2 separate regions of the Homo sapiens genome follow, and region 1 is linked to region 2. The links come from fine-mapping of genetic effects on gene expression. A gene starts in region 2. The other region holds a variant in brackets. All regions are shown on one strand. Distances are between the middles of the regions.

Evidence for each region.
Region 1: its variant is fine-mapped to the expression of HNRNPC in CD8 T cells (Kasela 2017, PIP 0.95). The same link has a PIP of 0.9 or more in B cells and monocytes.

Annotation. Positions count from the first base shown.
Region 1 is chr14:21,207,853-21,210,774 of GRCh38, reverse strand. HNRNPC (heterogeneous nuclear ribonucleoprotein C) reads left to right here. Exons shown (of 9, transcript NM_004500.4): 9 at 1-1,628. Among named protein-coding and RNA genes, the nearest start is that of LINC00641, 2.4 kb to the right of the region's middle. The variant T/G (reference allele first, on the strand shown) is at 1,676.
Region 2 is chr14:21,267,844-21,270,765 of GRCh38, reverse strand. It overlaps HNRNPC (heterogeneous nuclear ribonucleoprotein C), which reads left to right and starts at 1,324. Exons shown (of 9, transcript NM_004500.4): 1 at 1,324-1,468. RefSeq lists enhancers at 595-1,220, 1,324-1,583, 1,221-1,845 and a silencer at 1,154-1,233.

The DNA.
Region 1 (2,922 bases), 60 kb after region 2:
TTAGTGTGCTGTGTGGGGCAGTTCAACACAAATGTAACAATGTATTTTTGTGAATGAGAGTTGGCATGTCAAATGCATCCTCTAGAAAAATAATTAGTGTTATAGTCTTAAGATTTGTTTTCTAAAGTTGATACTGTGGGTTATTTTTGTGAACAGCCTGATGTTTGGGACCTTTTTTCCTCAAAATAAACAAGTCCTTATTAAACCAGGAATTTGGAGAAAAAAAAAACCCTGGTTTTTTATTTTTGTATTTTATTATTGTTTACTTCAAACTTTGTTTTACAGCGTCCTCCACAAAACCTCTAGAATGCACTAGATATATTTTTCTTGGAGTCATAATCATGATGCATACCAACACAACACTACTCAAATTATATTTCATTGAGATGCATGTTGCATTGAGGAGTCAACTTGACATAGAGTGGAGACTTTTTCAAAATGGCTTTTACATCCTAATGAAAGTTTGGGAAGTATATCCTCTCTGCCTTTTCATCAGTGCTTTGTGGTCCAGCTGGCACCCTTTCTGAGGTTTGTGTTTTGTGCTAAATGGTTTTGTCCTTAAATAGGAGAGGCTCAAAAACATCAAGATTTCAGGAAAATGGCGACAGCTGCATAATGGAACCCCCCTGCTTCTATTTTGTTCTTTTAATTACTATTTATAGCCCCAGTTACCTTCTGAATTCTGAAGTGTATATACCTCCATGTTCCTGAAAACAAGAAAACTCTTACTTCCTGATATTCCATAGACTGCCTTCCCAGGTGATTGAGAACATAGAGAATGTTACACATTTATTTTACTCTAAATGATCTTTTACCCCTGTTAGCTAATCTTTGTGTTTTCCTCAACTTTATTAATTACAGTGATTGCATTTTTAGCATCCAGTTGTAAGATGAATATATTAAACAGCTACCAGTGTTGGTGATACCTCATCCTTGAAAGGCTTAGTTCATTTGTGTTTTATACTTCAGTTTTTCCAGCATAGCAGAAAATGCCGCTTATAATTTTTGTGCACACAAACCTTGGATTCCCCTGTAAAGTTGCTATTGTTTCATAGCATGCGGCACTGGCCTTTTTTCATCCTACTCATTACAGGCAAAACTCATGTCTTATTTATGAGGATTTTATAGATCATTTTCTGTAACAGGTGACAAAAGCAGAAAAGAATGAAGAGGCTGAAGTATGAACTACCCTTGGAGCCCATATACATGATATAGGCAATTTCTTTTGTATGTTAATTCAGTCAAAAATACTACCCACTTGATGTTTTCTAATCTGATGTGAGCTCATGTTACACAGACTTTTAGTAAGTAACCCGTGACTAGAAAATAAACTGGATGCTTAGGAGAGAGTGTCAGATGTATAAGATGCTAATAAAACCTGTTTAATATTATTGTTAGCTGTAAGTTTTTGGGAAATACTGAACAAATTAGTCCACAATCAAGTGTCTACTTTTCCCTTCACTGTAGGGCCTCTCCCTGCACAGAGCAGTCTGTTTAGCTGTGAACACCACAATCTGCAGATGTTCAAGTCCCTTACATAAAATGGCATAGTATTTATATGTAACCTATGCATATTCTCCTGTATATTTTAAATCATCTCTACATTAAAATACCTGATAAAATGTAAATGGTATGTAAATAGTTGTAACTTTTTTTATTTATATTTTTGTTAACT[T/G]TTTTTAGTTTTTTTTCTTTGCTAGTATTTTCGATCTGTAGTTGGCTGAATCTGCATGTGCAGAACCCATGAACATGGGGGGCCAACTATACATTTTATTCTAGGAAAGCAGGTATTGAATGAAGCTGTGGAGAGCGCTTTTTAATATTAGGTTGGTGCAAAAGTAATTGTGGCTTTTGCCATTACTTTTAATTAGCTGCAGTTACTTTTGCAAATAGCCGTAGAGCATGATCACAGATTGAAAATCTATACACACATATGGTAGGGTTGTTGGAATACTGACATGTCTAGTTTGTGTTGATGGGGAAGTCATTTCACGCTCTTGGTTTTAGGCTACGCTACTGTGGCTTAAATTTCCTCGTGTTTAAGACAACAGTACTCTAGGTTTTCTATAATCACAGGTGTACTCATTGAGTACTTTGACATTTAGGTTCCTAGGCCAAAACTGTAGCAAAGTAAAGAGACCAGGATTGAAATACCACATGGTAAAAGGCTTTTAAAAATCTGATCTAATGCAGATAAGTACAGGCTTTTTGGGAAAGGGGCTAGTGTTTTTAAAGGCCATTTATCAGATGATATGCTTATAGTCAGTGTGACATTACTTAACCCTGGGCCCTGCAAAGTAAGAATTGAGTTGGCTCAATAGAAATTCAGAATAGTAGGCATGGCAGTGCAGGTAAAGGGGTTAGATCTGACGGTAATAATTGAGTGATTTCTGATTTAATAATTGAGGGATTTCAGATTGATAGTCTGATTACACTGCAGTAGTGGAAGTAAGATTTAAAAGTAAAAACATTTTAATTTGGGATAAAATTCAGAACACAAGTTTCTCAATATGCCATGAAATCTAAGAAAATGTCCTGCAATCATTCAAGAATGCAGTTTTCATTTCAGGGTTAGAAAGCAGGAGAGGAGGTAGATAAAAAATCCTTAGTAACATTTTTTTCTGGTGCTGCATAACGTATAATTGGGAAACTTCTTCTAGGGTAATTAATAAATTGCTGCTGTCTCAGTGGGATGAGCTAACTGGAAGCTGTCAGGTGGGAATGGATGCTAAATTTGGGATTCTCAAAAGGAGGGCTCCTCTTGTATTTCACTTCTGATGTTAATATTACCCCAACATGCAAAGATTGTGTGATTAGTACCTATTACTTACGTGGTTTAAATCCTCTTTTTCAGAGGGAACCGGGTGTAATAGAAAAGGAAAATAATGTAAATGGGAACAAAAAGGTGGTAAATTGGAAGGA
Region 2 (2,922 bases):
CTACTAACACTTTAGTGTATACTTTCTCCCATATTTTTCGTCTTTGCTTTTTAAAATAGTTTAAAGTGGTCTGGCGTGGTGGCTCACGCCTATAATCTTATCACTTTGGGAGGCAGAGGCGGGCGGATCACCTGAACAGTCTGGCCAACATGGCGAAACCCCATCTGTACTAAAAATACAAAAATTAGCTGGACATGGTGGCGCGCACCTGTAGTTCCAGCTACTCAGGAGGCTGAGGCAGGAAAATCGCTTGAACCCGGGAGGCGGAGGTTGCAGTGAGCCAAGATCGCGCCACTGCACTCCAGCCTGGGCGACAGTGACTCTGCCTCAAAAAAAAAAAAAAAAAAAAAAAAAAAAGAAAAGAAAAAAGAAACCGCTGGCTTAGTAGAGCTGATGCTACCCCACTGCGTGCGCAGTTCCTATAATGTAACCAGAGAGACTGGCAGGTGACGGGGGTAGGTAGGAGACAAGCCATTTCAAGAGGAGGGAAATTAAGGGACCAGATTTGGAAGGATGGGCCAATTTTGCTGGCACTTAAGATATTAGATGCCCTGGGGCCAGAGGCCAGGATTCTGCACTTCCTTTTTATATTGGAGAGGAATAAGGAAGTCAGTTGGTTTCGATGGAACATGTGTTGTCTGAAGAAGGGTTTAATAGGCCAAGAAGCAGATGTCTACGAGGTAGCTGACATTCGAATCTGGAACTGAGAAAGGGTCTGGGGTTGGAAAAACTGCAGGACTGGTTAGTTTTCTACACACTTTAACAAGGCCTAGTCACTGCTGCTCCCTCCTCATTTTAAGAAAAGTCCTTTCTTTATTCACATTGCACAACGGAGGCTTCATTTCGCGCTTTTTTTTCCCTAGGCCCGGGGCTGGGGCAGGTCTTTTGCGCCCGTCACCTAACTACGCCCCTCAACCCTTTCCCCGCCCCCGCGCAGCCGGAAATCCGAGGTCTGGGCGGATCTTCTACTAGGCACTCTAAGGGGCAGCGATAGGACGCCGCGGCCGCCAATCAGGCCTCCCAGATACCCGGATGTGAGACGGTGCGCGATACAAAGGCGAGTTTCCACCCAGAGGGTCGTCCCGTGCAATAGCCAATAAGCATTCTCCAGGCAATAAATGACAGGAAAACTAACCAGTTATAAACTAGTTTCTCTCACGCATGTGGAAATTCGCCTGCTTAGTCTAACCCACTGCTAATTGTGATTGGATATCATTGTGAGGAGCGGTTGAACTGTCTAATTAGGAGCGGGAGCGAAAAAACGCACAGCCAATAGGAAGATTCTCAGGAATGGGGCGGGGACTAGGCCTTCGCCTCGGCGGCAGAGGAGACTCGGGGGCCATTTTGTGAAGAGACGAAGACTGAGCGGTTGTGGCCGCGTTGCCGACCTCCAGCAGCAGTCGGCTTCTCTACGCAGAACCCGGGAGTAGGAGACTCAGAATCGAATCTCTTCTCCCTCCCCTTCTTGGTAAGTGGAGAGGGCGGACGCAGGGAAGGCGCTGGGTTTTTCGGGAAGCGAGAGGGGGTGTGGGAGAGAAGATGTGGGAATCCTTCCCCCTAACTAACCGGGCCCTCATTTATTCTGCTTGTTTTGGGGGATTAGGTTGAAGCCGGGGGCAGTTTTATAGGCCTCAGCCTCTGTATAGGTTTAACCTGGTGTCCTCTAGGCCACGATCGCCAGGGAAAATGTCCTTTTTTCGCTCTTCCTGTGTTAACGGCTGCTTTCCTTTCATTTTCTACGACCGCGAGGACTACGGGATCATGAAAATGAAGATCGTGATGCTCATTAATATAGTCGAAGTTAACGTAGCGCCGATGCCTTCTATTACCTCCGTTCTTCTTACATGTAAAAAGTGGGGGAGGGGAAGGGGGAAGGTTACCAAGTAGATGTATCGCGAGCCTTTAAATCCTGGATCGTGCCGCGTGGCCTACGAGAAAGGTTTAACAAAAGATTCAGCATTTTACTGATAACTTTTTATTTTATTTCTCTCTATGAGCAAATGATGGAGCTCGAAGTAGTTATTTTCACTTACATTTGTAAAAGGAAATATTGTGATATAACTATATTAATATTTACAGCTGACTTTTCATCTGCAGGTTACAAAACACTTGAAATATATAAGTTAGTGGAACTTTGCTTGAGGTAGGTATTAACTCTCTTTCTCAGACGGAAACTGAGGCAGAAAAGTGTTGGTTGCTAGGGTCATATTAAGTCAGTAGCAGCACTAGTAAGGAATTTGACCACGAGGTCAGTCGAGTGGTTTTTACCTAGTTAATGGAATACCTAGTTAATATAGTTCTAAAACTACTGTATTGCAATCTTTGCCAAGAACCTGATGACGGAAACCACGAGGTAACTGGAAATTCCCAAATTGCGCTTAAGAAAAATACTACGAGACTTGAGAATTTTTTAACGTAACTTCCTAAGTGTAAGATGACAAAATTTGACTTTCGGGATATTCTGGCGTTAATTTTCCCGTCCGCCTAAATGTGGGCAAAAATTCACAGCTACGTTATATTAAGCAAATATTAACAGTGCCTATTATTTGCTGGGTGCTGAAATTTGATAAAAAACTTAAAAGTTAAAAAAAATTGTTTAGATCTTTAGTGTCACATTGACTTATCTGGGACATCGCTTTTTTTAATCCTCACATGAGATTTGGCTAAGTTTATTTTTCACAATCTGTTAATCTCACAAAAACTAAAGCTGTTAAGCACAGTTTAAACCCATTCTGCAGGGTAAGAAATTCATCTGTAAGGCAATCTATTTGATAGGAAGTAAAATAAGGGTCAAAAACATCGCGACCCCTTTCTTAAGGCTTAAACATGTATATTATTACAGGAACTTAAAACTAAAGTTTATCATTGTGCTGAACTGTTAGAAATGAGGTTAGGGTAAAAATGGGAAATCATGAAGTAAAA